4 linked regions of the Homo sapiens genome follow. The protein of the gene in region 1 purifies or fractionates together with the protein of each later gene. This does not show direct contact. Each region holds a gene or a part of one and is shown in the gene's direction. Other genes may lie near its edges. The genes, in order: IKZF5, NOL6, RPL36AL and CHD8.

Region 1 (7,023 bases):
ATGTCTTTAGTTCACCAGTAAGATTATAAGATGCTGAAAGGCAGGCACTGTGTTTTCTCTTGCTTTATATAGTGTCTTGCACAAAATAGCTTTTGTCATTTGTTTGCTATGTACTAGATCTCCCTAAATAGTGTAAAATTGTTTCAGTTTTGTTTTCTAGGTCTAACAAACTGTAAATGTTAAAAAAGCAAAGATGGGTGAAAAAAAACCAGAGCCTTTGGACTTCGTGAAAGATTTTCAGGAATACCTGACTCAGCAGACCCATCACGTGAACATGATTTCTGGATCAGTTAGTGGGGACAAAGAAGCAGAGGCTCTTCAGGGAGGTAGACTCATTTTAATACTACTAAGTAATTCACTTTTTATACACGTACTATGATTGCGTGTAGCTGTTACTGTGAAGACCACTGCGCATTAATGTGAATCATTCTGTTTTTTCTAGAAAGATACAGGGCATTTTTTCCCCCTTTTTTAAACATATCAGACTTCTGCTGGAGAGTACTTAACATGGTCTGGAGATGCATTATGGTCTTGTTGGAAGGTTAGGGGCTCCAAATACCCTTCCTGTCCTCCAGTTTTTATGAGCTACCATTAGACACAAAGAACCCAAAGGGGATTGGAATATCAGCTTCACTATACAAACCATTAGGCCATCAGGAAATCTGGATTCGACCTGAGATAAAAATAGGGGTTTCAGTTTCTTCTCTCTTAAAATGAAGAAAGGGCTGACCATGTTTACCTATCCAAGAAGAGAAATGAAAATAGAGAAAGTGGTGACCTCCTTGAGCCTGCTAGAGGTAAATTTTGTCTAATTTGCTTGCCACAAAAAACTGGAATTTATTCCTAACCTAGCTCGGAGGTCAGCAAACTATAGCCCGTGGGCCCCATCTGGACTGCTGTTTTTGTATGGCCTGCAAGCTAAGAATGGTTTTTACATTTAAAGATGGTTTTAAAAGTGTCAAAAGGAGAATAATGTAATGATACATGAAAATTCTGTGAAGTTCAAACTTGAGTCCACATAAGTAAAATTTAATTGGAACACAGATATGCTCATTTGTTTACATATTTTCTGTAGCTGTTTTTGTTTGTTTTGCTAAAACAGCAGAGTTGAGCAGTTGTGGTAGAGACCATATGGCCCACAAAGCCTGAAGTATTTACTATTTCATGCCTATAGAAAAAGTTTGCTGACCCCTGACCTAGATAGTCTGGGTACGGCCTTATAATGCAGGGACTAGCAGCAGGGACCAGGCATCACCCGGGAGCTTGTTAAAAATACAAAACACCAGACACCACCCCAGATCTACTGAATTATAATCTGTGTTTTAATAAGATCCCCCAAGTAATTCACATACACATTAAAATGTGATAGTGACTGGCTTGGGAAAGCAGTGGGAGAGAGGAAGACACTGAGCCTTGTCCCTCGAATGCAGTGTAGCCCTCTTGGATATTGGTCTTGTCTCAACCAGCAGAATCACTTCTCCTAGTGAGGAGTGAGGAACCGGTGAAGCAGGGGGCTTGAATTGTGCATGCCAGGACTGTTACCTCCTGAAATGGAGTAGACCTTTTCCCATGAAGCTGTAGGAATGGAAATTTCCCTCCTAACGCACAGATTTCCAAACAGGATTCAAGAGACCAGGGTTGTAGTCCCAGCCATTTGCCGATTTTCCTGATTATGAGCATCAGGTCTCTTCAGTTTCTTTCTACAAAAAAGTAGTCAGATTAGATTAAAAGCAAACAGCCAAACATGTTTTATCTCTGAGATTCTTAAAACCTTAACCTTCAGAGGTATCAGGGACGATACTTTCCTTTATGGGCTTAATTAGAATTTTAAGATCCTAAATGGAACAGAGATCTAGAACGTACATATAAACACTGGGATGTGGAAAACTTATTCACTGCTTCAGACTAAAATAAATAGAGTTAGGGTTTTGGAGATTCTTTGACTGCCAGTTTCAGTTGTAGAAATAGCGAGGGTGCTAAACACCTGTGTGTAACTGTGCCATCACTCTCCAGTGAATCTCTTTATTCCCCTCCCTCCTCACCTGTTCACTTCTTCAAAAACATGTTAAGGACCAGTACAATGTGTGTGTAAGTAATTTTGTTTTCTTTGTTTTTGAGACACAGTCTTGCTCTGTCGCCCAGGCTGGAGTACAGTGGCACAATCTTGGCTCACTGCAACCTCTGCCTCCTGGATTCCAGCGATTCTCATGCCTCAGCCTCCTGAGTAGCTGGGACTACAGGTGTGCACCACCATGCCCAGCTAATTTTTGTAATTTTTTTTTTTTTTTTTAAGTAGAGACAGGGTTTTGCCATGTTGGCTAGGCTGGTCTCTAACTCCTGGCCTCAAGCTATCCCCCCACCTCTGCCTCCCAAAGTTCTGGGATTACAGGTATGAGCCACTGCACTGGCCTTGTGTAAATAATTTGAGATCCCCCAATAAAAGGTTCTCAGAATATAATACAGAATGTATTACTGCTTTTGTATAAAATTAGCCTCAGTTCAGAAAGTCTGTTATAAAATGGACTTAACTTTTGTGAGAAGTGAACTGTCAATTTATAAGATTTTTCAACCACTTAAAACTGAAATGCTAAATTGAGTTGATTCTGAGATGCATAATTTCTTTTGCGGTACTTTGTTTATAGCTGGAACAGATGGTGATCAAAATGGACTTGATCACCCATCTGTTGAAGTTTCCTTGGATGAAAACTCAGGAATGTTAGTAGACGGGTTTGAAAGGACCTTTGATGGGAAGCTTAAGTGTCGGTACTGCAACTATGCCAGCAAAGGAACAGCCCGGCTTATTGAACACATCAGAATCCACACAGGTAATGGAAAGACAGCTGGAAAAAGCATTTCTGTGAGGGCAGGAGAGGGGCCAAGGGGGGCAGGTTGGTTTGTCATAGAAATAGTTTTAATATTCAAAAATGAAGGTTTATGTAAAGTTCGAATAAATGGGAAAGTTACTCCATTTTTCAAAGCAACAACATAACAACATACAAACAGGTCAGAAGTGATGCCCTTTGTAGATCCTCTCCTTCCTTAGCCGTGTTTCCCTCTTGATCCAAATAATCTCTCAACATCTGCCTGCCTCTCAGATTGGGAAGGAATAATGCTAAAGCACTGCGATGTGATAAAATGTTTTAATCTTTATCCTATTACGTTTCATTTGCCGAAAGGGGGAAAGGTTTCAGAAAGTATACAGTTGCAGATGGTACTGCTAATCCCAGATCTCACTTTAGCTGTCCCTTCTGAGAAACTTTCCCAACTACATCTGCCCTCTGCCCAAGACCAGGTCAGACGTCCTTCCTGTGTGCTTCATGCATCCTGTGCTCATTCATCACATCATTGTAGCCTGAGAGCCTCTTGAGGACAGGGCAATTGTGACAAGACCATCTTTGTACCCCCAGAGCCTAGGAGGGCATGTGACACATACTTACTAGATGAATGACTCTAAATCTCATATTCCAAATGTTTATTTCACATAATTGGGCAGTCTTCAGTTAACAACATTAACTATAGTTGTTCCTTCTGGCAGCTGAAGAGTAGGAAGATGGAGGAGAAGCACTAGCAATTTTGAAGGGATGCTTTGCATAACTCAGACTAGCAAGCCCATTTCAATTCTGAGCTTTCTATTTCATATAAGGACTTTAAAAAAAGCTTTTTTTGTATTTTTTTTTCTGTGAGCAAAGGGTATGCATATGTGTGTGTGTGAATATGAATGTATATAAATGTATACATGAATATATAACTGAGACATACTTTTGATAAACTCATTATTATGTAAGACTATTACTAGAATATTTCAATTGTACTGTTTCTTCTCTCTAAATGCATTCGAAGCCATAACAGTTTTTATACTGTATTGACTAATACAACATCAATGCATATTTCAGGTTGTTGCTGATGAGTTCTTAAGCTTTATTTCAATTTGTGGGTTTATTTACAAATTTTAACAATCTCATATGCTATGCAAATATGACTTTCTGAAAGCATTTTCTTTTTGATCAATTTCCAGTTGTCCAATGAATGGACAAGCAAAACTTTCCATAAATGAACTACTCTTGTAGTTTCTCCATCATTTTTCTTTTGAAACAGGTGAAAAACCTCATCGATGTCATCTTTGTCCATTTGCATCTGCTTATGAGCGTCATCTGGAAGCCCATATGCGTTCTCATACTGGAGAAAAACCATACAAATGTGAATTATGTTCCTTCCGCTGCAGTGATCGAAGTAACTTGTCCCATCATCGAAGGCGCAAGCATAAAATGGTACCAATTAAAGGTACTAGGTCTTCCTTAAGCAGCAAGAAAATGTGGGGGGTTTTACAGAAGAAAACAAGCAATCTGGGCTATAGCAGAAGAGCACTAATCAACTTAAGTCCACCTTCCATGGTGGTTCAGAAACCAGACTACCTTAACGATTTTACCCACGAAATCCCAAATATCCAGACTGACTCCTATGAAAGTATGGCAAAAACCACACCAACTGGTGGCCTTCCAAGGGACCCCCAAGAACTCATGGTTGATAACCCTTTGAATCAGCTCTCGACTCTAGCAGGGCAGTTGTCCAGTCTGCCACCCGAAAACCAAAACCCTGCATCCCCTGATGTAGTTCCCTGCCCTGATGAAAAGCCTTTCATGATTCAGCAGCCCTCTACCCAAGCAGTAGTTTCTGCCGTATCAGCAAGTATTCCTCAGAGCTCCTCTCCCACAAGCCCAGAACCTCGGCCATCCCATAGTCAAAGGAACTATAGTCCAGTGGCAGGTCCAAGCAGTGAGCCAAGTGCCCACACGAGCACTCCCAGCATAGGAAACAGCCAGCCAAGCACCCCAGCCCCAGCCCTGCCGGTCCAGGACCCTCAGCTTCTGCACCACTGCCAGCACTGTGATATGTACTTTGCAGACAACATCCTTTACACTATTCATATGGGATGTCATGGGTATGAAAATCCTTTTCAGTGTAATATATGTGGATGCAAATGTAAAAACAAGTATGATTTTGCCTGTCATTTTGCAAGAGGGCAACATAACCAACATTGATTGAAAATAGTCATATTTTACTTAGTTTTGCTGTTTTTGTGGTTTGGTTTTTTTTGTTTTTTGTTTTGGTCATCCCTAATAAAGTGTCTGCTAATTCAAGGCTTATACATTATATTTATAGAATATAAATTTGTCAGTGGAATAAAATTTCCCCTTTTTTTCATAAAAATCTGGTCAGGGTCATTTATATATTAGAACAGTTAGACACATTGGTGTCTCTTTTTTCCTTTCCTTTCGACATTGGAGAATTGGAGTGCAGTCATAATCTTACAAGATGTTCATTTGAATTTCTCACATTTATGGTCCATAAAAACTTCAAGGCTTATCCATACTTTTGATGTTTCAATATGCATTGAACTGGATGTTATTTCTGCCATATTTCAAAATGGTAGAATAAATTACAGAATTTATTACTACTCATTTCAGTGTTTAGTACAGAAATTGCCTTAAAAATTGCTATTAATTGAAATATCATTTAGTTCACATTCCTTAAGTTGAATCGGTAGTTTCATTTCAACTGATAATAGTAAAGCTATTTCAGTTTAGTAAAAATTTTCTTTTTTCCACAAGAGGAAATGTAAAACAGTTAAGACTTGAAATTGAAAATTCTTTTAATATTTAAAATAACTTGTTTATTCAATGTCTAAACACATGTCAGTTTTCCACTGGATTTTTATTTTCACAGGTAAATACACTAGAGTGCTAGATGCCTTTTTCCCCTGTCAGTTTGACTTTCATTTAAATCCTTCATTCTGATATCATTACTGTTAGGTGAGGTGGATAACTATAATGAGAATCTCTTATTCTTCCTATTCCTTTGATGACCAAAGAGATAAAGTGAAGTCATCCTTATTATTAAAATGCAGCCTCCAAACAAATTTCTCAAGATTCCTTTTCCTTCCTTCTATCCATTTTCTGCCCATAATTTCCAAGAAAAGGTGGGTATGGAAACACATGAGAGAATGTGATAGTGAAGTCATATTTACAAAACTGAGAACATGTCCAAAATGGATTCTTGTCTCCTCTTCAGAATTAGCCATTTAAAATATTTTCTGTGACTTCAAATTGTAATTCTTATTTGCAGTTTTACCAGTCTTCATGTACAGTGACGAAACTGTGTAGAAACTAAATCATCGCTTTAGTAAGAAAGGATAAAAAGGTGTGGAAGTGAATATAAAATGCATCTAAACATGACATTTAATTTGTTTATAAAAATAAGACTTACTAAATATAGAGTAATTCATTTTGAATAGGAGGCTATTGTTTTTATATTGTGTAATAACTCACGTACTCTGAAGAGAGCTTGGTCAAACAATAAAATACATTGTTACTAACTTGGTTTCTTTTCTGTGTACTTTGCAAAAATTCTATTTTTAATTTTGTTCATATGTTGAATGTGCCCCTAATTGGCATCTTAAAGAGAATAGTAAGCATCTATTAACCAAAAAAGAACTCTAATAGTAAAGGAAAGGGAAATATTGGTGGTATGTACCCACAAAACCCCCAAGTGCCAAGTTAATGGAATCTCTGCTTTCCCTTTCAGATGCTAGAAAGCCACTGTAATGAGTTCTTGCAGTTTAGCATCCAGTCTAAGCTACTGCATTGTTTAAAGAGCAGCATCAAGGACACTTTCTCCAAACTGGAACTCTCTTCTTTGTCAAATCTTGTACTTTAAAATTCTACAATTCTGTTACATTGTTGTTTAAATCACAGACTGCTCAGATCCATTTTACTGCAGTAGTTTCCAAGTGTGTAACTTGGCTTTAGTATTTATCAGTTGCCAGAAAGAAACAGGTTGTCATTTGGAAGTTTTTGTGGTTATTTTTTCCCATTTTTATTCTTCAGATAAAAGCAGTACCCCAAAATAGAAAATGAAAATTTTCATGAAACAAAGAGAACTCCCTTGTTAAAACCAGCTTATTAACTCTGTATTCTGTCAAATGCATTTTTTTCTAACAACTGACCATGGATGTTGTGAAGGTGC
Region 2 (7,745 bases), on another chromosome or scaffold:
GACTTCAATGATGCTGCTTCTTCCCCTCTGTCAATTCAAATTCAAACCATGCTTCAACACTTAGCACAAGCTCCATTTCTCCAGTAAATCTTATCAATCAAAACATTCTGAGCAAAGAGAGCAGCAAGGTCAAAGGCCCAGGAAATAAATCAAATTAGAGTAAGAAAACTCCCAAATAGTTCAATGCAACTGGGGCATAAAATTTGAGGGAGACAATGGTTAAAGGAAAGACGGAAAGGATTGACTATGGTCACAATCATTCAGTAAACATTTATTAAGTACCTACAATGTGCTAGGTATTGGGCATGTACACATGGTCCTCATTTTCACGTATTCACAGTCAAGGGCAAAAAGAGACAACTGGGCTGGGCAAGTGGCTCATGCTTATAATCCCAGTGCTTTGGGAGGCTGATGAGGGAGGATTGTTTGAGATTCTGAGGTCAAGACCACTACCAAATATTTAAAAATTAGCTGGGCATGGTGGCATATACCTGTAGTCCTAGCTACTTGGGAGGATCACTTGAGCCCAGGTATCCCAAGCTGCAGTGAGCTACAACTGCACTGCAGCCTGGGTGACAGTGAGATCCTGTCTCTAAAAAAATAGTAATAAATTTATAAATAAAAGTAAAACAAAAGGAGAGACAATTGATAACCAGAAATTGTAAAAAGCACTAAAAGGAAAATGGATGATATAAGAGAAACGTTTTAGAAAACATATTGGCCAGGCCGGGCGTGGTCGGTCACGCCTGTTATCCTAGCACTTGGGGAGGTTAAGGTGGGCTGATTGCCTGAGTTCGGAGTCCAAGACCAGCCTGGGGAACATGGTGAAACCCTGTCTCTACTAAAATACAAAAAATTAGCCAGGCGAGGTGGTGTGCACCTGTAGTCCCAGCTACTCGGGAGGCTGAGGCATGAGAATTGCTTGAACCCCGGAGGTGGAAGAGGTTGCAGTAAGCTGAGATCTTGCCACTGCACTCCAGCCTGGGCGACAGGGCAACACTCTGTCTCAGAAAAAAAAAAAAAAAAAAAAAAGAAAAAAGAAAATAAAGGAAGGAGGGTGGGAGGGAGGGAGGGAGAAAGAAAGAGAAAACATAACAGCCTGGGCGTGGTGGCTCACGCCTGTAATCCCAGTACTCTGGGAGGCAGAGGAGGGCAGATCACTTGAGGACAGGGGTTCAAGACCAGTCTGGCCAACATGGTGGCCTACTCTACTAAAAATGCAAAAATTAGCCAGGTGTGGTGGTATGTGGCTGTCATCCCAGCTACTCCAGAGGCTGAGGCAGGAGAATCACTTAAACTTGGGAGGTGGAAGTTGCAGTAAGCTGAGATCTTGCCACTGCACTGCAGCCTGCGTGACAGAGAAAGACTCCATCTCAAAAAAAAAAAAAAAAAAAGAAAGAAAACATATCTATATTTGTTTAGAGAACATATTTTAGGACTTTAGTTAAGACCTTGGCCGGGCACAGTGGCTCAAGCCTGTAATCCTAGCACTTCGGGAGGCCAAGGTGGGAGGATCACTTGAGTCCAGGAATTTGAGACCAGCCTGGGCAACATGGTGAAATCCTGTCTCTACAAAAAATTAGTCGAGTGTGTGGTGCACGCCTGTGGTCCCAGCTAGCCAGGAAGCTGGGGTGGGAGGATGGTTTGAGTCCAGAGGTGATATTTATGCTGAGAGGTGAAAGATGAAAAGGAGAAAAAGCCAAGAAAGCAAAATTCCAAATGGAACAAACAGCTTGGGTGAAGTCCCGGAGTTAGGAAAGAACTTAATACAACGAAGGAACTGAAAGAAAGCTGATGTTGCTGTAGCTCAGGGAACCAGGGGTGGAGTAGCAAGAAAAATGATGAGGGCCAGGCAGTGGCCGATGCCTGTAATCCCAGCATTTTCGAAGGCCGAGGCCGGCAGATTCCTTGCGCTCAGGAGTTTGAAACCAGCCTGGGCAACATGGCAAAAGTCTACACAGAAATACAGAAATTAGCCAGGCATGGTGGTGCGCGTGTGTAGTCTCAATTACTCAGGAGGCTGAGGTGTGATTCCACCACTGTATTCTAGCCTAGGCAACAGAGCGAGAACTTGCCCCTCTTCTCCCACAAAAAAGATGGAATAGCTGGGCAAGGTGGCTCACCCCTGTAATCCCAGCACTTTTGGAGGCTGAGGTGAGCGGATCACTTGAGGTCAGGAGTTTGAGACCAGCCTAGCCAACATGGTGAAACCTTGTCTTTACTAAAAATACAAAAATTAGCCGGGTGTGGTGGCATGTGCCTGTAGTCCCAGCTACTCTACTAGGGAGGCTGAGGCAAGAGAATCGCTTGAATCTGGGAGGCGGAGGTTGCAGTGATCTAAGATTGCACCTCTGCACTCCAGCCTGGGTGACAGAGCAAGACTCTGTCGCAAAAAAAAAAAAATAAAATAAAATAAAAAGAAGGAATAGCAAGTGAAGGGCCATATTGATCATGACTTTATGGAAGTTGAAGTTTGTGTTTAGTTTTAAGTACAATTGGAAGACACTGATGAGTTTTTAAAAGGAAGTGACATGATAGAATTTCTATTTTAGAAAACTAATTCTGGCAGCTGTGTGGAAAATGAATTGAAAATGGACATACCGCTCTTCTGAAACTTCCTTAAAAAGCTATCGCATAGCCGGGCGCGGTGGCTCACGCCTGTAATCCTAGCACTTTCAGAGGCCAAGGCGGGTGGATCATGAGGTCAGGAGATCAAGACCATCCTGGCTAACACGGTGAAACCCCGTCTCTACTAAAAAATACAAAAAATTAGCCGGGCGTGGTGGCGGGCGCCTGTAGTCCCAGCTACTTGGCAGGCTGAGGCAGGAGAATCACTTGAACCCGGGAGGTGGAGCTTGCAGTGAGCCGAGATCGTGCCACTGCACTCCGGCCTGGGCGACAGAGTGAGACTCTGTCTCAAAAAATAAATAAATAAATAAATAATAAATAATAAAAAAGCTATTGTATAAACTGACCTGCACTGTTTGAAGTCAGAATAGTGATTGTTGGGGGCAGAGTTACTAGAGGGCAGCATGAGGGGAGATTCTGAAGGTGCAGGAAATGTTCTGCTTATTTTCTGGGAGCTGACTATATGAGTATGTTTGGTTTGTTAGTATTCAAGCTTTACACTTGGGATATGTACATTTTTCCTTATGTATATTGTACTTCAATACAAATTTTTAGACTGGGCACGGTGGCTCACCCCTGTAATCCCAGCATTTTGGGAGACTGAGGAGGGCAGATCACTTGAGGCCAGAGTTTGAGATCAGGCTGGCCATCATGGTGAAACTCTGTCTCTACTAAAAATACAAAAATTGGCCTGGTGTGTTGGCGCATGCCTGTAATCCCAGCTACTTGGGAAGCTGAGCCACAATAATCAATTGAACCAGGAGGTGGATGTTGCAGTAAGCTGAGATCGACCCACTGCACTCTAGCCTGGGCAACAGAGGGACACTCACTCTCTCTCAAAAAAAAAAAAAAAAAAAAAAAAAAAAAATATATATATATATATATATATATATATATATATATATATTATATGGTAATAGTTGAATTTAGATGATCCTGCATTAGGAAATAAAATGAAACATATAACGGTTATTACTGGAATAACTGACAAAATTTAAAGATGGAATTTGTATACTAGTATTGAATCACGATTAAATTTCCTTAATTTCATAATCGGGCTGTGCTTACATAAGAGGTAGTCCTTGATCTTAGTAGATACATACCTAAGTATTTAGGGAGATGTGTGATTGGTTTTCAAATGGTTTTGCAAAATAATATGTAAATACATAGGTAAAGATAAACTTGGCAAAATAGTAACACTAAGTGAATCTAGGTGAAGAGTATATGCGCATTCATTATATTATTCTTGCAACATTTGTTTTAAATTTTTAATAGTTTAAAAATAGGCCGGGAGCAGTGGCTCAGGCCTGTAATCCCAGCATTTCGGGAGGCCAAGGTGGGCGGGTCACTGGCAGTCAGGAGTTTGAGACCAGCCTAGGCAACATGAGGAAACCCCATCTCTAGTGAAAATACAAAAATTAGACGGGTGTGATGGTACCTGCCTGTAATCCCAGCTCCTCAGGAGGCTGAGGCACGAGAATCGCTTGAGCCTGGGAGAGGGAGGATGCAGGGAGCTGAGATCGTGCCACTGCACTCCAGCCTGGGCGACAGAGCAAGACTACTCCAAAAATAAATAAATAAATAAATAAATAAATAAATAAATAAATAAATAAAAATAACTAAATTACTTGAAATTGTAATAAGCTAAGTAATAAGTAAAAACTGGAGAAAAGTCATAACAATAATTCGGGAACAAGATGATGTGACGGGCTAAACCTGGCAGTGAAGACACAGAAAAATGAATAAATTCAAGGTATGTTTTGGAGGTAGAACTGACAAGATTTGTTAACTGATAAGGTGTAGCAAATAAAGAAAAAGGGAGGAATAACTGCTGTAAACAAACCTGACCAAAAGGAACAAACTAGCTCCGCCCTTCCCGATTGCAGCCACGCGAAGGAAGTGAGGAAAAGAAAGCAAAGGCCTAGCTACGGGCAGGCTTCCGTTCTAGCGTCGCGAAGAGGCCGTAAAGCACAGAAACCCGTTTGTCCCCTCCCCTAATGGGCGGGCCTTGAGACTGCCCGGCCAATGGCAAGCGAGTAATCGACTGATAATCCAATAGCTCTGGAGTGGGTGGAGTCCTGAGGAATTGGGGTGGGCTGGACTTGGGCCTGGAGTTAGGCATTTCCGCCCACGTGGGAAGCTATGAGGTATAGACCCGGCTAGAATCTGAAGTGCGGGAGAGTGCTGGACCCTGAGTGATGGGGCCGGCGCCAGCTGGAGAGCAGCTTCGCGGAGCGACTGGAGAGCCAGAGGTGGGTTGAGCCATCGGGGAGGAACAGAGGCTCAATGTGCGCTCCCTTGGCTGCAGGGCCCGAGATGGCGTGATCTGACAGCTTGCGGGTGAAAGCCATGCCGGCGGCCCATTCTGGAGGATGTTTCCAGCCAGTGGCACTGAGACAGGGCTTGCTAGGGGTGATGGAACCTGGCAGTATTTGGTTAGAAGCAGTGAAGCCGGTAGAGCCTCTGCTCTCTTCTGGAGCTCTGCACCTCAAAGTTGAAGAGACCCACACTTGGGTCGTTTCTTTTATTTGGTGGTCCTTGACGATAAGCGGGATCTTCCTCCACAGAATTTGTGTCCAGTTCTGTGCTCCCCGCTGTAGCGGAGGGCATACGGTGCCTCTCCTGGAGCGCTCCAGTAAGGCTCTCTGGGATGAGAGGCATCGTGGAGCGGATGGGCCCACGGCTGTAGGGGAAAAGGTTTGGGATCCTGCACGCTTGCCTTTGAAGCCTGCTCATAGTACGGGTGTACCAGTTGTGGAACCTCGAGTGAATAGTGGGACTTCAAGTGTCTTCAAGAATTATTTTGAGGATTTAATGACTTGCTAAATGTGTCCTCTGGGGTCCAGTCGGTTCTAGCTCCTTCCATCAGTGAGTATTTAGTGTAAACTGAGGCAGTCAGGTCTTCCTAGAGGAGGTGGAACCTGGCAGGATTTGGTTGGAGCGAGAATGGGAAAGACATTTGAGAAGTCCCAGGCCTATATCAGCAGAAGAGGAAACTTCCTGAAAATACAAGGGGCCTGGGCATTACTTAGGGCAGGGCTCAGTCAGCTTCTTTTTTTTTTTTTTTTTTTTGACAGTCTTGCTCTGTTGCCCAGGCTAGAATGCAATGGCACGATCTCGGCTCACTTCAGCCTCTGCCTCCTGGGTTCAAGTGATTTTCCTGCCTCAGTCTCCCGCGTAGCTGAGATTACAGGCATGTGCCACCACACCTGGCTAATTTTTGTATTTTTAATAGAGACGGAGTTTCCCCATGTTGGCCAGGCTGATTTCGAACTCCTGACTTCAGCTGATCCGCCCAGCTCCACCTCCCAAACTGCTGGGATTACAGGCGTCAGCCACCGTGTCCAGCCTGGGCCCAGTCAGCTTCTATCACTACCAATTCCAAACAGAGCTCCATGCTTGTGGTGTCAGGTAGACAGGAGAGCTCTTAACTCAAGGAATTTTCGGCTCAGCGCTCAGTGATGTTCATCCAAGTAACGATTCTCCTGAGTTTTACAAAATCTGACTCCTACTCAAAAGAGGGACAGAGCAGGTGAAGCTTTTACCCACAACCTATCATGGTGGCACTTTAGGCAGCAGATGCTAGATACCTATTACCTCAAAATGGCTTCTCCCTCACTGGCCACAGGTGATGGAACCAGCCCTGGAAGGCACAGGCAAAGAGGGGAAGAAAGCATCCTCCAGGAAGCGTACATTGGCTGAACCTCCAGCGAAGGGCCTCCTGCAGCCAGTGAAGCTCAGCAGGGCAGAACTGTACAAGGAGCCTACCAATGAGGAGCTTAATCGCCTTCGGGAGACTGAGATCTTGTTCCACTCCAGCTTGCTTCGTTTACAGGTACTGTTGAGTGTCTGCAGCTTTTGTTCGAGGTGTGTACCTGGGACCCTGAGGCTGATGGACTGTCTTCTACCCTCTCTTACAGGTAGAGGAGCTACTAAAGGAAGTAAGGCTGTCAGAGAAGAAGAAGGATCGGATTGATGCCTTCCTACGGGAGGTCAACCAGCGGGTTGTGAGGGTGCCCTCAGTCCCTGAGACAGAGGTAAGCAAGTGGCCTGGGGAACTGGGAAGCCCAAGAGAGACCTCCAGTGGGGGTATATCAAACAGGGGCCTTGCTGTTACTCTGTTTAAGGGTTGGGGTGCAGGGAGCTCATTCTCACAGCAAGGAAGCTTAGCTGGGAGCGTGGTCATTTGTGTATTCATTCAGCAAGTACTTCCATGCCTTGCAGTATTTGTGTTCTTAGGATATATCAGTAAATAATAGCCTATGCTGTAATGCTGAGGTTATAGTTAATAGATAAGCATAACAGGTAAACTCTATGGCAATGTTAGAATGTGGTAAACACTGGAAAAAGGAAAAAGTAGGACGAGCAATGTAAGGGGATTGGGAGTATTAGAGGATGGGAGTGGTTTACAAGTTTAAAGGGGGTGTTCACAAAGTAGGCCTTATTGAAGTGACATTTGTGTAAAGACTTGAAGTAGGTGAGTCAGCTATATAGATATCTAAGGGAATAAAAGCATTCCAGGAAGGGGGAACAGCCAGTACAAAGGCACAAAGGCAGGAATGTTCCAGTTACATTCCTTGGAATGAATGAGGAATACAGAAGGAGATGAGTTCAGAAAGGTGATGGGGAAAAGTAGCATATCATGCAGGGCATTGTGTCCCGAAGTAGGGACTTTGGCTGTTGCTCTGGGTGAGATGGGGAGCCACTGCTGGATTTTATTTTGCAGAACAGTGATGCCCTCTAACTTTTAAAAGTTCACGTTTTTGTTTTTGTTTTTGAGACGAAGTCTCGCTCTTGTCCTCCACACTGGAGTGCAATGGCGCGATCTCAGTTCACTGCAGCCTCCACCTCTCGGGTTCAAGCTATTCTCCTGCCTCAGCCTCCCGAGTAGCTGGGATTATCACACCCGGCTAATTTTTTTGGTATTTTTAGTAGAGAGGGGGTTTCACCATGTTGGCCAGGTTAGTTTTGAACTCCTGACCTCAGGTAATTTGCTCTCCTTGGCCTTCCAAAGTGCTGGGATTACAGGTGTGAGCCACCGTGCCCAGCCTAAAACGTTCACTTTTCCAGCCTTAAAAAGTTTAGTTTTAGAAAAATTTACTCCGGCTGTTGTGTCA
Region 3 (7,364 bases), on another chromosome or scaffold:
TTTTTTTTTTTGCCTCTGGAGTTTAAAGTTTCCTTATGGAGATAAGTTTTGTGATTCCTGTAATAGATGTGTATGTTTTCTATTTGAGAGTTAAAACATTTGAGAGTTAAAACATTTAGTTTTAATACAACCTATGTATATATACTTCTGTGTTAAATTTTGCTTTGTCATTAATAAAATTTAAAAATATTCACTAATTGTGTTTGTCACACAAAGTAATTCTCAAGAATGCATTTAACTGGAATTATAAGTACATGTGTGGGGGGTAGAATTTCAAAACTGTTTCTCAGTCTCACTAAGTAGGACATATTTAAGCTTGAAATAGAGCTTAGAGGGGAAAGAACTTTACTAACCAATATTAATCTAAACAATTACGATACAAATTCACCAGATAAAATGTAGTACTTTTCATCAGCTCTATATTTTGTCACACAAACTATATATATTTTTGTTACATAAAGTATATATAATAGATTTAGTTATTTAGTAATGATTTTCAAAATTCAATTTTGAAGTATTTCTTAGAAGTTATTGAAATATTAAAACATCTTGTGGTTTTATAGAAATTTAAGAGTAAAACTGGAATTTTTAAAATCTGGCAATTTGCTCTGATAGGAAAATTGCCTTCATTACATTATTACACAGAAAAACAAAAAAAAGCCAGTGTTTCCTAATCACTTTCTTTTTTTTTAAGAGATGGGTCTTGCTATGTTGTCCAGACTGGATTCAAACTCTTAGGCTCAAGTGATCCTCTCATCTCAGCCTCCTGCATAATCAATTTCCTTTATAACACCTAAAATGTGAGGCAAAGAGAAGATCCTAACAGGTTTTTTTCTTACAAAAAATTTTAGGGCAGCCAAAGAAAATGAAAGGAAGGAAATACAGAAAGGGAAATATTTGTTGATTTAATCACTAACCCCAAAGCCAGGAGCTGATCTATTTGTTTCAAAAACAGCTACTACTTCACACTCTGGCCTTCTTAGCTCAGTCCTGGAAATAACCTAATTTTTTAGTTCTTTGAACTAGTGATGTCAGGTCAGAGTACCAGAAATAGGTACAAAGCCTCCTGATTCACCCTTATTTATAACCCCCAGGCAAAATCTTGCACCAGACTGGGCCGTGGGTAAGTCTAAAGGTAGCTCGTAAAGCAAGAGAACTATTTGCCTCACCTTAGATAAGCATATGTGCTCTTAAACTACTATGAATCTTAAATTGATGCAATAATTTTGAGACTGCCATTTAATAGTTACAAGTTTAAGTAACTTTTTTTTTTTTTCTTTAGATGGAGCCTTGCTCTGTTGCTCAGGCTGGCGTGCAGTGGCACGCTCTAGGCTCACTGCAACCTCTGCCTCGAGACTCAAAGGATCCTCCCACCTCAGCCTCTCAAGTAGCTGGGACTACAGATGCACCACTACACCCGGCTAATTTTTTGTATTTTTAGTAGAGATGGGTTTTCGCCATGTTGCCCAGGCTGGTCTCAAACTCTTGAGTTCAAGCAATCTGCCTGCCTCAACCTCCCAGAGTGCTGGGATTACAGACATGAGCCACCACACCCAGCCCGTAATATCTTTACACAGAAATTAGTCTTTTATGAGAAATTCTCGGTTGAATGCAATTACAAATTAAGGGAAACTTCTATAAACGTCTACATTAAATATGGAGCAAAATTTAAGCCTGTTTCCTATAATTTTCTGTATCTGTCCTTTTAAAACGTATGATTTAAGTTAAAGCTGGCACTAGAAAGTATTTCACTTTGGCATGACTGAACTTTGTATCATTTCTGGCTTTCAAAAACAATTTAGGCTGTATTTCCCTTACACAGCAACTTTTTATCATTCATTTTCAATGCCTGGGTAATTTGAAAGCCAAACAGTTTCTTGCACAGGGAATGCATTGTCATAAGCTGGGTTTTATTTCAAACTCAATTATACAATGTAGCAATAGTAAATATTAAAATGTAATGCTAACTCAAAACTTGTAGAATGCCTTCACTGAATTTTGGTATAAAGAGTAAACAAAACTTATTCTGCAAAAGGATTAGGAACCTTTTTATGCAAAAATGAGTATTTTATTTTGTCAGCACTAAAAGAAAAAAAAAAACAAAACCACTGTATTTCTACATTGAGGTGAAAACAATGTTTAAACTTTCTTATCAATCAAATACATTCCAAAAGAAAGTGTGTTCTATGAAGGTTCCAAAACACACTCAAAACACAATAGTACAGGAATCTAATACTGAAAATGACTGTTCTGACAGGGTGTTTAACAAACATAACTTTTAAATTATTAAACCAGTGAAGCAATCCCTTCCTAATAAGTGTGTCAAGAGAGTGAAACTGGGTTTGTTCCATTAATACCCTAACAATTTCATCGTAATACTTTTTACTGCTATGACAGTTTTAAATAAATTTTGCTGTACTTAAAATAGGTTTTGAAAGTGGAAAAGTGTACAAAGTTTCAGATAAAAAGATTAATAAATGCAATTTAAATAAAATTTCCCCTCTTCTCTCATATCAACAATAATCAATTTTAGCAGATAACAGATTGAGCTTTAAAACCCTACTCCCAAAATGAAACCTTCAGTTTTAAATCTTAATCAGACATAACTGGAAAAGATTACTATGTATTTGGACACCTTTTACAAGATTTTGTTTTTGTATTAAAGCAGAAACCAGTTCCTAAACTCTTTTATTCAATTGTATGTCCTGTTTGGACAAATATCAAAAATAGAAGACTGTCGCTTTTGTAACTGTGATTTTCACTGCAGTCTTCTATAACTTTTACAGAGTTCATGGTCCCTAATATCTCCCCACCCTCCATTTTTTCTAGGTGGGGAAATGGCTACCACAGTAAACTTTTCACTGATAGTTAGAGTTTCTGGAAACATGTATTGTTTGTTATTATTTAAGAGTGACTCAATTTGGGCACTCTGAGTGGATGGTCTACAGGTTTTCTTGTGATGCATACCACAGTCTCCAGCATGAAAGATCCTAGGAATTTGAGGAACCAGCACTTTCCAGAATTTTGGAAGACAAGATACAGTCAAGTATTGAAGAGTCCAGTCCCAGTTATAATCATCATAAGTACAGAAAGTGTCTGTGCACTCGATCAGCTTCTGATAGGCATTCCGGGTCAAGGCTAGACCCATATTGTGCTCTGTGGATTTCCAAGTTTTCACATCTACCTTGTCAGCCATGCCATAGAAACTGCGACTGGCACTATAGGTCCCCAGGGAGAGAACATCACATTCAGGGCACTCTTGCTGCTTCAGTTTCCACATCTTTTTGAAGACATGGTAAAAGTCTGGGGCTAAGTAGTGATCCTCTTCTAGGAAAAGTATAAGGCCAGCATAATCTCGAAGAATTTTCACTCTTTCCCACACAAAATGCAGCTTCCACCACCAGTGATGTTTGGTCTGGGAGAATTTGGCCTCTCTATAATGGCCGAAGGAGTCGGGATACTCAGCATTGATGCACCCCAATTTCAAAGCGGCATTCTTCGGCAGGTCTCTGGGACAATCTCTAGGGTCACTACCTGGAAACTCGTTAGGGTACAACTGAATGCTGAAAGGAAAGAACACCTGCAGAACCGGACAGAAATTCACCCCGGCGATCAGCTGATTGATCTCGGTCGACCAGAAGTCATGGCTAAAGATGACGAGGACGTTGTCAATTCCCTGGGCTTTTCGAAGTGAGTCCAGCAGCAGTCTGAGGTATTCGGGCCGGTTATGCACCTGGACCACCAGCACCAGCTCCCGGGGGGCCCAGGTGCCAGCCTTATCTACATTCCTCAGGGTCTGATCAAAGTTCAGCTGGTACACCAGGGACCGGTACCGCAGCGTCAGGTTGTCCGCCTCGGGCTGGGGGACCGCCGGGACCAGGGAAGCCGCCGACACGTTGGAGACCCTGCGGATGCCCACAGCCACAGAGGGGTGGTCCCCACCGCGGCCGCCGGCACCCCGCGCGGGTTCGGCGTCCAGCAACGGTGGGGCGAGGGCCTCGTTCTTCCTTTGTCGCCCATTGCTGCTCCAGAGGACGAAGCCGCAGGCGGCCACCACGAGCGTCAGGATTAGCACCTTCCGTTTGTAGATGCGGAACCTCATGGTCTCCAGGGCCGGGAGCGCAGGCGGGCGGGCGCGGAAAGGAGCAGCTGCTTCTGCACGGAAGGGGCGGGCGGGCGGCGGCCGTCGCCTTGGCCTGTCACGGTCGGAACTGGCCCCCGCGGCTGCCCTCGCTAACTCATCCCGGGCCCCGGGGGTCCTGGGGCCCGAGACCTCTCATTTACCCCGCGCCGCCTGCGCTCCACACATCCTCGCCTGGCAGCTACAGCTCGAGCATCGGCGCCGCCGCTAGGAGCCGCGGCTCGGCTTCGTCTCCGTCCTCTCCATTCAGCACCACGGGTCCCGGAAAAAGCTCAGCCGCGGTCCCAACCGCACCCTAGCTTCGTTACCTGCGCCTCCAGCGGCCCTGCGTCCTCTGCGCTCTCATCCTTACAGGGGCCCTAGACGGCCAGAACTGAGCGACGCGGCCTCGCCTCACTCCGGCGGGGACCGTTATGACAACCCGCAACTGCCCCGCGGCACACCGCGGCCCTCCGGCCCACACCCCTCCGGCCCGCCCCTTAGACCGTTGGTTGGTGCTTTCCAGACGCGACCGAAGGCGCCTGACCGCCGTGGCCGGCTGCCTATTGGTTTGCAGTACTGTCGCTCAGGTGCAGTTCCCACTTCCGCCTGTTTCTTCCCTTTCCTGTTAGGCGAGAGCTGCGAAAGGCGAGAGCTGCGAAGGGCCAGGTGTCGGGCGCTGTTTCTCGGTAAGCTAAGAACGAGGCTGTAGCGGCTCCAATAGGAGCCTCCCTTGCTCAGAATCCTGGGTAGGACTAGGCCTTCTTAGGAAAGGGAAGGCGAGACCTATGGCCCTCGCCGGCCTTAGTTCGAGAGCAGGCTTCTCCCTTCAGGAAAAAGGTCTCAGGCATGGCGGCTATAGAATCGCGGGGCGCGCCGGCTTGATAAGGACACGTCAGCCCTCGAGGCTGCTGACGGGTGACTGTGCTTCGGAGGGGAAAAGTGATACTACGCTGATGTGGTTCTCGTAGAAGGAACGGGGCGGGTCGTAACCGTAGCTACAACGTCGCGCGCTGCCCCAGCCATTCTCTAGAGCTGGAAAATGGAGGAGGTGGGTGGGGGGAAGGGGGTCAAAGAAACTCTGGTCCTTAACTTCCTTTTCGGAAGAAAATTAGATGAACCGCACTTTTCTTTTGGAGCAGTCACAATAAATTAAACTCATTTCGTACGGAAAACGGACTGTATTGGGCCTCCTAAAGCTGCTGCTGTCGGTTTTCGTGAGTCTTGTTCTATATGAGAAAAGAAGAATGGCTCGGAGCATTGTTAATTATTTGAGATGTGCAAAATTTGCCGGGCCCAGAGAGACAGCAGTATGGGACTTCAGACACCTCCCCACTTAATGCCTGGCATTTTATTCCTGACTAGCTGCTTCACCCATTATGTCCGCGTTCCTGGAATTTGTCATGAAAAGAATGATGTATAGCCAATCAATCGCTTGTGTTATTTTAATGTAAATTCTTGGTAGACAATTTAGGAACTGCCATTTTTTCCTCTAAAAACCCACTTGCAACTGCTGCTACTCAGGGCATTTTGAATCTGTGCTCTGGGTTGCAATCCTCAAACTTGCCCCAAATAAACATTCTACTTATATGAATTGTGCCTCAGTTCTTTTTTTTTTTTGAGACGTAATTCCGCTGTTGTTGCCCAGGCTGGAGTGCAATGGTGCGATCTCGGCTCACGGCAACCTCCGCCCCTCCCCACCCCGCCCAAGCGATTCTCCTTACAGGTATGCACCACCACCACGCCAGGCTAATTTTGTATTTTTAGTAGAGACGGGGTTTCTCCATGTTGGTCAGGCTGGTCTCGAACTCCGGACCTCAGGTGATCCGCCCTTCTCGGCCTCCCAAAGTGCTGGGATTACAAGCATGAGCCACCGTGCTCGGCCTTGCCTCAGTTCTTTAGGTCGACAAATTAGTCCTCCAGTAATTTAAACGAAGTGTTTCAAAAAGGTATGTACTTGTATGTGCGTTTATTCATATGGAAAAAGAGTACGTGGTGGATTTATATATTACTCATTTATGTGTACGGTTTTCCTGTATATACTTGTATAGCACTTTCACTTTTCGGAATGTTTAACGTCTGCTATCTTATTTTAAATATTTTACTACAGTTTTCATCATATAGACAAAACAGCCCTGCTGCAAAGATGGTCAACGTACCTAAAACCCGAAGAACCTTCTGTAAGAAGTGTGGCAAGCATCAGCCTCACAAAGTGACACAGTATAAGAAGGGCAAGGATTCTTTGTATGCCCAGGGAAGGAGGCGCTATGATCGGAAGCAGAGTGGCTATGGTGGGCAGACAAAGCCAATTTTCCGGAAGAAGGCTAAGACCACAAAGAAGATTGTGCTAAGGCTGGAATGTGTTGAGCCTAACTGCAGATCCAAGAGGATGCTGGCCATTAAGAGATGCAAGCATTTTGAACTGGGAGGAGATAAGAAGAGAAAGGGCCAAGTGATCCAGTTCTAAACTTTGGGATATTTTTCTTCAATTTTGAAGAGAAAATGGTGAAGCCATAGAAAAGTTACCCGAGGGAAAATAAATACAGTGATATTCTTACGCAAACTTTTTGTGGTTTTTACTTATAAATAGAATTCCATGTTTAGTGTAGTCCCACCTCAAACTTTACTAACAAGTTTATATATGTATGAAGGGAAAATACTACTTTACTACTTTTTGTTTTCTGGTCAATTTCAAATGTTGAATGAATTCATAAACATTGAGCAGCTTAGAAGGATCTTTAAGATTTTGCAAGAGAAGGAACAAGATAACGCTAGGCTTGTGTATAGCAGGCTGGGTTGGGCAAAGGATGGAAGTTGGGGGATAGTAAGAGCTGACCAAATATTCTGTCTAGTAGGGGCCGCTAGCCAGGTAATGTGTTTCCTGTTACACTAGTCAGATTTAGTACTCAACAGCCACGTGTGGCTAGTTTATTGGACAACACAGATGTAAAACATTTCCACCGCAGAAAGTTCTTTTGGACAGTACTGTTAGAGACTGTGGCCTTGAATATAAAAGGATAGTTCAAAATTGACTTCACACTAAAGTTCTCAATCTAGTGAAAGTCCAAGATAGCATAAACTGTTTTTTGAACCTCTTAGAACACTCTGGGAGGTACTCAAAAAAAAATTTTTTTTTGAGACAATCTGTCACTGTAACCCGCACTGGAGTGCAGTGGCACATTCATGGCTTACTGTGGCCTCTCAGGCTCTGTAGCTCTGTAGGTCCTGCCTTAGCCTTGGAGTA
Region 4 (7,023 bases), on another chromosome or scaffold:
TGAACCACTGAACCCGGCTGATTTTTTTTTTTTTTTAAGGTGGAGTCTCGCTCTGTCACCCAGGCTGGAGTGCAGTGGCGCAATCTCAGCTCACTGCAACCACCACCTCCCGAATTCAAGCGATTCTCCTGCCTCAGCCTCCTGAGTAGCTGGAACTACAGGCCTCCGCCACCACACCTGGCTAATTTTTGTATTGTTAGTAGAGACGGGGTTTCACCATGTTGGCCAGACTGGTCTCGAACTCCTGACCTCAAGTGATCCACCTGCCTCGGCCTCCCAAAGTGTTGGGATTACAGGCATGAGCCACCGTACCCAGCCGATTTAAGACTTTTTTGTGCTGAAATTCTGTGTGTGAGAAATGTTGGTCTTAAGTCAAATTACATTTTTTTCCTTTTGCTTTCTTAGTTAAATAGACTACAACCTTAATATGGTTCACTGGATCTCAACATAATTTGATTTTTCTTTTGGCAGGTGCTGAAGAAAAAATCCTAACAGAATTCCGTGAAGCTTGCCATATTATACCTCATGACTTTCACCTGCAGGCCATGGTTCGTTCAGCCGGCAAACTGGTTCTTATTGACAAGTTGCTTCCAAAGCTTAAAGCTGGTGGCCATAAAGTTCTGATCTTCTCTCAGATGGTGCGCTGCCTAGACATCCTAGAGGATTATTTAATCCAGAGGAGGTAAGAAAAGAGTCATCCTAGCCTGTGGTTACTCTGTCCTCATAAAGCAGCAAAAAGTAGGAGGGCCTGGATTTAATTAGAGTTCACCAATTGCAATAAGAGAAGTTTTTAAGATTCTCACTCTCAACTTGGGTTTTTGACCAGCTTTGATATGGGAGTACTGGTATTGATCCTAGCCTGCTGTTTTGGTCTCCACTTCTGCTTAGCCACTTACATTTTTTTTCTGCGATTCCCATACAGGTACTTATATGAACGTATTGATGGGCGAGTTAGAGGCAACCTTCGACAGGCTGCCATTGACCGCTTCAGCAAGCCTGACTCAGACCGCTTTGTCTTCTTACTGTGTACCCGGGCTGGTGGACTTGGTATTAATCTTACAGCTGCTGATACCTGCATCATCTTTGATTCAGACTGGAATCCACAAAATGACCTGCAGGTAAAGGAATTCATTGTCTTAGGGACTAACTACCTAACTTGGGAGATTTTTCAACAAGAATAGGATCTTTTAGAAAGACCTTTCACAGAGTTTGGAATTGTTTCCTTAGTTAAGGGTGGCAGTTAGGTCAGGGAATCAGCAAACGTTTTCTGTAAACGACAAGACAGTAAATGTTTTAGGCTTTGTGAGCCATCGAGTCTTTGTTGCAACTGCTTATCTCCAAGTCCTGTAGCGCAAAAACAGCCATAGATAATATGTAAATGAGTGGGTGGTCCCACCTGTGTCCCCATTGAACTTTATTTTTAAAAACAGATGTCCACACAGACTTTAGTTTGCTGACCCCTGGTCTACATGATGGGGTGATAATTTCATCTTGAAATTGACTCTTGGTTTTGAGTTGATCTCATGGCTGCTCTATAGAGGTGAAAGAATCATAAATTGGTATTTTGTATCCTTTCCCTTGCTAATTTTATGATATCTTTCTCCTTTCCTTTCGTTTTTATTTTAAACCAGGCCCAGGCACGATGTCATCGAATTGGGCAGAGCAAAGCTGTGAAGGTGTACCGCCTCATCACTCGTAATTCCTACGAGAGAGAGATGTTTGATAAGGCCAGCCTCAAGTTGGGGTTGGATAAGGCTGTGCTTCAATCCATGAGTGGTCGGGATGGCAACATTACTGGAGTGAGTCCTCTTAGTTTATAGATAAGTTTGTAGTAGATCATTGTGATAGAGGGAAACAAAAGCTATTTGTACACAGGGATTTGACTACCTTGTTTGGATTCTCAATTATTATTTCTTAAAATATAATAGCTAAAATATTATGGCATGGTTAGATATTATTCTCTTGATAGTCTTTTCATCTTTCTATTGGTTTTTACAGATCCAACAGTTCTCTAAGAAGGAGATTGAAGATCTTTTAAGAAAAGGAGCATATGCAGCCATCATGGAGGAAGATGATGAAGGCTCCAAGTTTTGTGAAGAGGACATTGACCAGATCTTGTTAAGACGAACTACAACCATCACCATTGAATCTGAAGGAAAAGGTTCCACCTTTGCTAAGGCATGTTCTGTCTATGCCAGAGGCTAGAAAAACACAGAGACCGGAATCTCTAGGATTTAATTATGTTTTTATGCTGGGGATGGTGGCTCATGCCTATATTCCCAGCACTTTGGGAGGCTGAGGCGGGCAGATCACTTGAGGTCAGGAGTTCGAGACCCAGCCTGCCCAACATGGTGAAACCTCATCTCTACCAAAAATACAAAAATTAGCCAGGAATGGTGGCTTGCGCCTGTCGTCCCAGCTACTCGGGAGGCTGAGGCAGGAGAATCACTTGAACCCAGGGGGTGGAGGTTGCGGTGAGCGGAGATCGTGCCACTGTACCCCAGCCTGGGCAACAGAGCAAGACTGTGTCTCAAAAAAAAAATGTTTTTAAAACATAATTGCTGATTTTGCACCACTTAAAAAAAAAAGTCAGCTTTACCTCTGCATTTGTTTTTCTCTAGGCAAGCTTTGTTGCTTCTGAAAACAGGACAGATATTTCTTTGGATGACCCCAACTTTTGGCAAAAGTGGGCCAAAAAGGCTGACCTAGACATGGATCTGCTCAACAGCAAGGTGAGTTTCTTCTTTTAGGGAGGAAGTATCGCAGAAGACCACACTACTTTCGGGAGTCTTTACAGCTACTCTGATTATTTGATGCTAATTGTGATTTATGATGGTGTATTGTATACAAGGGCTGTTGTGGATACTTTCTACCTAGGAGGCCCCAGAAAAGTAGTTGCTTTCTGAATAATTTTGCTTTCTGTAGATTATTTTACATGTCATTTAAAAAAATCTCTGAGTATCTACACGTTACATCCAATGTTATTGTAATCCCTAATTGTCTTATTCTTTTCCCATGAGCAAATCAGGAAGAGAATTACTTCTCCTTCTGTTCTCTTCATAGAATAATTTGGTAATTGACACACCTAGAGTACGAAAACAAACGCGCCACTTTAGCACTCTGAAAGATGATGACCTGGTGGAATTCTCTGATTTGGAAAGTGAGGATGATGAGCGGCCACGCTCCCGCAGACATGACCGTCATCATGCCTATGGGCGCACTGACTGCTTTCGGGTGGAAAAGCATCTCCTGGTATATGGGTAAGACCCCAACTTACCATTAGAGGTAGTGCATAGTGCATCTCCATCCTGATAGATACTCTTGGTTTGCCTTTCAAATTGGGGGCTATGATCAAAGAAGGGATAATGTGAAAAAATATTTGCCTTGGAGGGAGTTTGTTCTGTTTATTCTGTTACCATGTTTTTTAAGATCTTTGTTTCACACCTTTTCAGAGACATGATTCTGAGGGACAGGGGACTGTCATTTCTCAGAAAAATGTTAATATAGTTTTCTGTTTTTTAGTTGGGGACGATGGCGAGATATTTTATCTCATGGACGCTTCAAGCGACGTATGACTGAACGAGATGTGGAGACCATTTGTCGGGCCATTCTCGTGTACTGTCTTCTACACTACCGTGGGGATGAAAATATTAAAGGCTTCATCTGGGACTTGATTAGCCCAGCTGAAAATGGCAAGACAAAAGAATTGCAGAATCATTCAGGTAATTATCAACTCTTTACTTTATGTTTTTCTATAGGTTAATCTAATCCTTTTCAGGTCCAAGGGTTTTTCTCAATCCAAGTCTTTGATGTCTCCCCTTTCCCAGGTCTATCTATCCCTGTGCCTCGTGGACGCAAAGGAAAAAAAGTAAAGTCACAAAGCACTTTTGATATCCATAAGGCAGATTGGATCCGGAAATATAACCCTGACACTTTGTTCCAAGATGAAAGTTATAAGAAGCACTTGAAACATCAGTGTAACAAGTAAGCATAGAATTAGCAGACATTTTCCACCTCAAACTTCTACAGTGTTACTGAGCCAGCTCTTCCTCTGTCCTTTCTAGGGTACTGTTGCGGGTACGAATGCTATACTACCTGAGGCAGGAGGTTATTGGAGACCAAGCAGAAAAGGTGTTAGGGGGTGCGATTGCCAGGTAAAATTCTGCTATATTTTTTTGATTTATGCCCTACCTTATTTGAGGGAAGATTGGTTTGCTTATTTCATTTTATGCTATCTTTGGGATACCTGATAATTTAAATCTATATATCAGGTCTTTAATCTTATACTTGACACTAGTGGGAGGAAATAGGGTAGATGCATGAGTATTTAAATTAATGGATACAGGAAGATACCTATAATAACCTTTGCAAGGATTCTCACTTTAATTTCCTGCATTTCTGTGCTGACTCTGCCCTCTTATACCTTTAGTGAGATTGACATATGGTTCCCAGTAGTGGATCAACTGGAGGTTCCAACAACTTGGTGGGACAGTGAGGCTGACAAGTCGCTGCTCATTGGAGTCTTTAAACATGGTACGTATCTTCTCCTATTCTACTCCTTTCCGACTGAAGATTTATGTTCACGGATGGAACATTTAGCAAAATGCTCCTGAGAAATAACTCAGTTATCTGATTGATCTTCAATAAATTTGAGTAGGAAAGTAGTTCTTAAATATCCAGAGCAGAGCAGTTAGTTCCTATAAATAGATGTTCAAGAAGGGCCAGATGGATAGGTAAATCTCAAGGTAGGGAGCCTCCCATCTGTTCTCTAATCACTGTTAGCAGTGTGTTACCGCACTGTATGCTATGGTAAGTTAGGGTCCCATGAATCAGGGCAGGTAATATACCCCAACTATTGTTAATAATAATCACACTTAATTTATATGACTTTCCTCTGGATGTGCACTAGCATAACAATTGCAGCAGATCATCTTGTCGCAGTTGTATTTCTGGGTGAGTAGGCAGAGGGAAGGCTCAATAATGTCACCTCAGAGGCAAAGCACCACCTGCAGGGTGGACTCTTTCTGGATGTTACAGTCTGAAAGAGTACGGCCATCCTCCAACTGTTTGTTCACAAATATCAGATGCTGCTGGTCAGGTGGGATGCCCTCCTTGTCGTGGATCTTGGCTTTGACATTTTCACTGGTGTCACTCGGCTGGACCTCAAGGGTGATGGTTTTGCCTGTGAGGGTCTTTACAGAGATCTGCATCTCTATGTCAGCTTGGCTGCCTCACTAAAGAGAAAGAGCTGAAAATCTTCTGTTTTTCTACATGTCCCATTTGTCTAAATGTTCAGCAGTCTCTCTGATATAGGTATGAGGCAGCAGTTTTTGAGTGAAATAAAAGTAGAGTATAAGAAGGGAGACTGACTAGCCAAAACAAAAATGCAGTGGGGGTAAGAATATTTCCTTACTCTTATAGCAGTTTTGCCTAATGCCAAATCCCAGGCACTAAAAACAGTAAGCGTTAACTTTCAGCCAAGTGACTTTGTGAATTAGAATGTCTTTTTTTTAAAAGAATACTTTTTTTTCTATAAAATAAAAGTAATGGCACTTAATCTACATCTTTTTTGAGACGTTTAATGGGATAAATAAAATTGCAGGTGCTGGGCATGGTGGCTTATGCCTGTAATCCCAGCACTTTGGGTGGCCAAGGTGTGCAGATCAGGAGATTGAGACTATCCTGGCTAACACGGTGAAACGCCGGCTCTACTAAAAAATATAAAAAATTAGCTGGGCGTGGTGGTGGGCACCTGTAGTCCCAGCTACTCAGGAGGCTGAGGCAGGAGAATGGCGTGAACCTGGAAGGCAGAGCTTGCAGTGAGCCAAGATCGCACCACTGCACTCCAGCCTGGGCGACAGAGTGAGACTCCATCTCAAAAAATAAATAAATAAATAAAAATAAATAAAACTGCAGGCAAGGCATGGTGGCTTACACCTGGAATCCCAACACTTTGGGAGCCTAAGGCTATCAGTCACTAGTTAAAAACTCTTCATGATTCTAAATTGCTATAAAAATGTTAAATATAGTAATAAACCCAGTAGTTGTCCAAGATAACATTCTAACTTTGTTTTCCATTATGAGCAATATAGAACATATTCTAATTATTCCAGCAGCATATAAAGTAAGCATAAAGGCAAAACAAATCTCATTTTCTTCAACTATGACCCTTTTTCTTCTAGGCTATGAGAAATATAATACCATGAGGGCAGACCCAGCCTTATGTTTCCTAGAAAAGGCTGGCCGACCAGATGACAAAGCAATTGCAGCAGAACATCGAGTGTTGGATAACTTCTCTGACATAGTAGAAGGGTAAGCATTAGTATTTGTTCTTTTAAAACTCTAACTTGTGCCGTGAAATAACTCTAGCCTTGACTGAACCCAATGGGATTCTTAATTGTAATTATACTCAAAAGTGATAGATCCTTAGCAAAAATAGGACCAGCAGAAAGGACTCCATAAACTGCATAAACCACATGTTGCCATAAGATACATCTGAGGGTGAAAATGAATGTCACTTGTAAATGGCTTATTTGATGTTCTATTTGGTTTGGTTTACAACACTCTTCTGTACAGCTACAGTAGCTGAGAGGATAACTGGTCTCTTGAAAGATAACAGCCAGCAGCTCTCATACGTTGCTTCTGTGGAAGAGCCTTAGGCGCTTTCAGCCCTGGTTTATCATCTCCCAATGGTACCTGACACATAAAGGTACTTATTTTGCCTGAAAACATGTCCCAATGATGAGTTGCCATGCTAATACTGAGCCACCAGGTAGGGCAGTGTTGCCCTGGTTTGGGTGCCAGTGAGTTTAACAAAACTTCTCACATGAAGATCTGAGGGGCATGTGAAACAGTTGGCTTAATGAATACCTCCCCATTCCATCATGACTGAGAAATTTCTCTTTGACGATCACACCCTCAGTTTGCCTAGTGTAGGACCCTCAAAGGAAATTGGGTTATTTATTCATTGCAAATCGTTTATGCCACCTGTCTGCTCAGAAGAACACAGTAATAAAAACAAAA

What was found.
Region 2: the proteins of IKZF5 (region 1) and NOL6 purify together in Homo sapiens (affinity purification with mass spectrometry; 2 studies listed by BioGRID and IntAct, with this or other methods). This does not show direct contact.
Region 3: the proteins of IKZF5 (region 1) and RPL36AL purify together in Homo sapiens (affinity purification with mass spectrometry; 2 studies listed by BioGRID and IntAct, with this or other methods). This does not show direct contact.
Region 4: the proteins of IKZF5 (region 1) and CHD8 purify together in Homo sapiens (co-immunoprecipitation; 3 studies listed by BioGRID and IntAct, with this or other methods). This does not show direct contact.

What each region holds. Positions count from the first base shown.
Region 1 is NC_000010.11:122,991,796-122,998,818, reverse strand, and holds part of IKZF5 (zinc finger protein Pegasus), read left to right. Parts: intron 1-147; 5' UTR 148-193; coding exon 194-326; exon of another isoform or gene 327-797; intron 798-2,642; coding exon 2,643-2,825; intron 2,826-4,095; coding exon 4,096-5,039; 3' UTR 5,040-7,023. UniProt on the Homo sapiens protein: Transcriptional repressor that binds the core 5'GNNTGTNG-3' DNA consensus sequence. Involved in megakaryocyte differentiation.
Region 2 is NC_000009.12:33,470,924-33,478,668, reverse strand, and holds the start of NOL6 (nucleolar protein 6), read left to right. Parts: upstream 1-4,744; 5' UTR 4,745-4,826; coding exon 4,827-4,880; intron 4,881-5,931; exon of another isoform or gene 5,932-6,160; intron 6,161-6,256; coding exon 6,257-6,463; intron 6,464-6,548; coding exon 6,549-6,665; intron 6,666-7,745. UniProt on the Homo sapiens protein: Part of the small subunit (SSU) processome, first precursor of the small eukaryotic ribosomal subunit.
Region 3 is NC_000014.9:49,618,007-49,625,370, reverse strand, and holds RPL36AL (ribosomal protein eL42-like), read left to right. Parts: upstream 1-4,744; 5' UTR 4,745-4,809; intron 4,810-6,230; 5' UTR 6,231-6,266; coding exon 6,267-6,587; 3' UTR 6,588-6,841; downstream 6,842-7,364. Other genes in the region: MGAT2 (alpha-1,6-mannosyl-glycoprotein 2-beta-N-acetylglucosaminyltransferase precursor), read right to left, coding at 2,759-4,102.
Region 4 is NC_000014.9:21,397,112-21,404,134, reverse strand, and holds part of CHD8 (chromodomain-helicase-DNA-binding protein 8), read left to right. Parts: intron 1-471; coding exon 472-682; intron 683-922; coding exon 923-1,118; intron 1,119-1,631; coding exon 1,632-1,799; intron 1,800-1,998; coding exon 1,999-2,178; intron 2,179-2,621; coding exon 2,622-2,732; intron 2,733-3,063; coding exon 3,064-3,260; intron 3,261-3,522; coding exon 3,523-3,722; intron 3,723-3,827; coding exon 3,828-3,984; intron 3,985-4,064; coding exon 4,065-4,154; intron 4,155-4,429; coding exon 4,430-4,533; intron 4,534-6,182; coding exon 6,183-6,312; intron 6,313-6,733; exon of another isoform or gene 6,734-6,842; intron 6,843-7,023. UniProt on the Homo sapiens protein: ATP-dependent chromatin-remodeling factor, it slides nucleosomes along DNA; nucleosome sliding requires ATP. Acts as a transcription repressor by remodeling chromatin structure and recruiting histone H1 to target genes.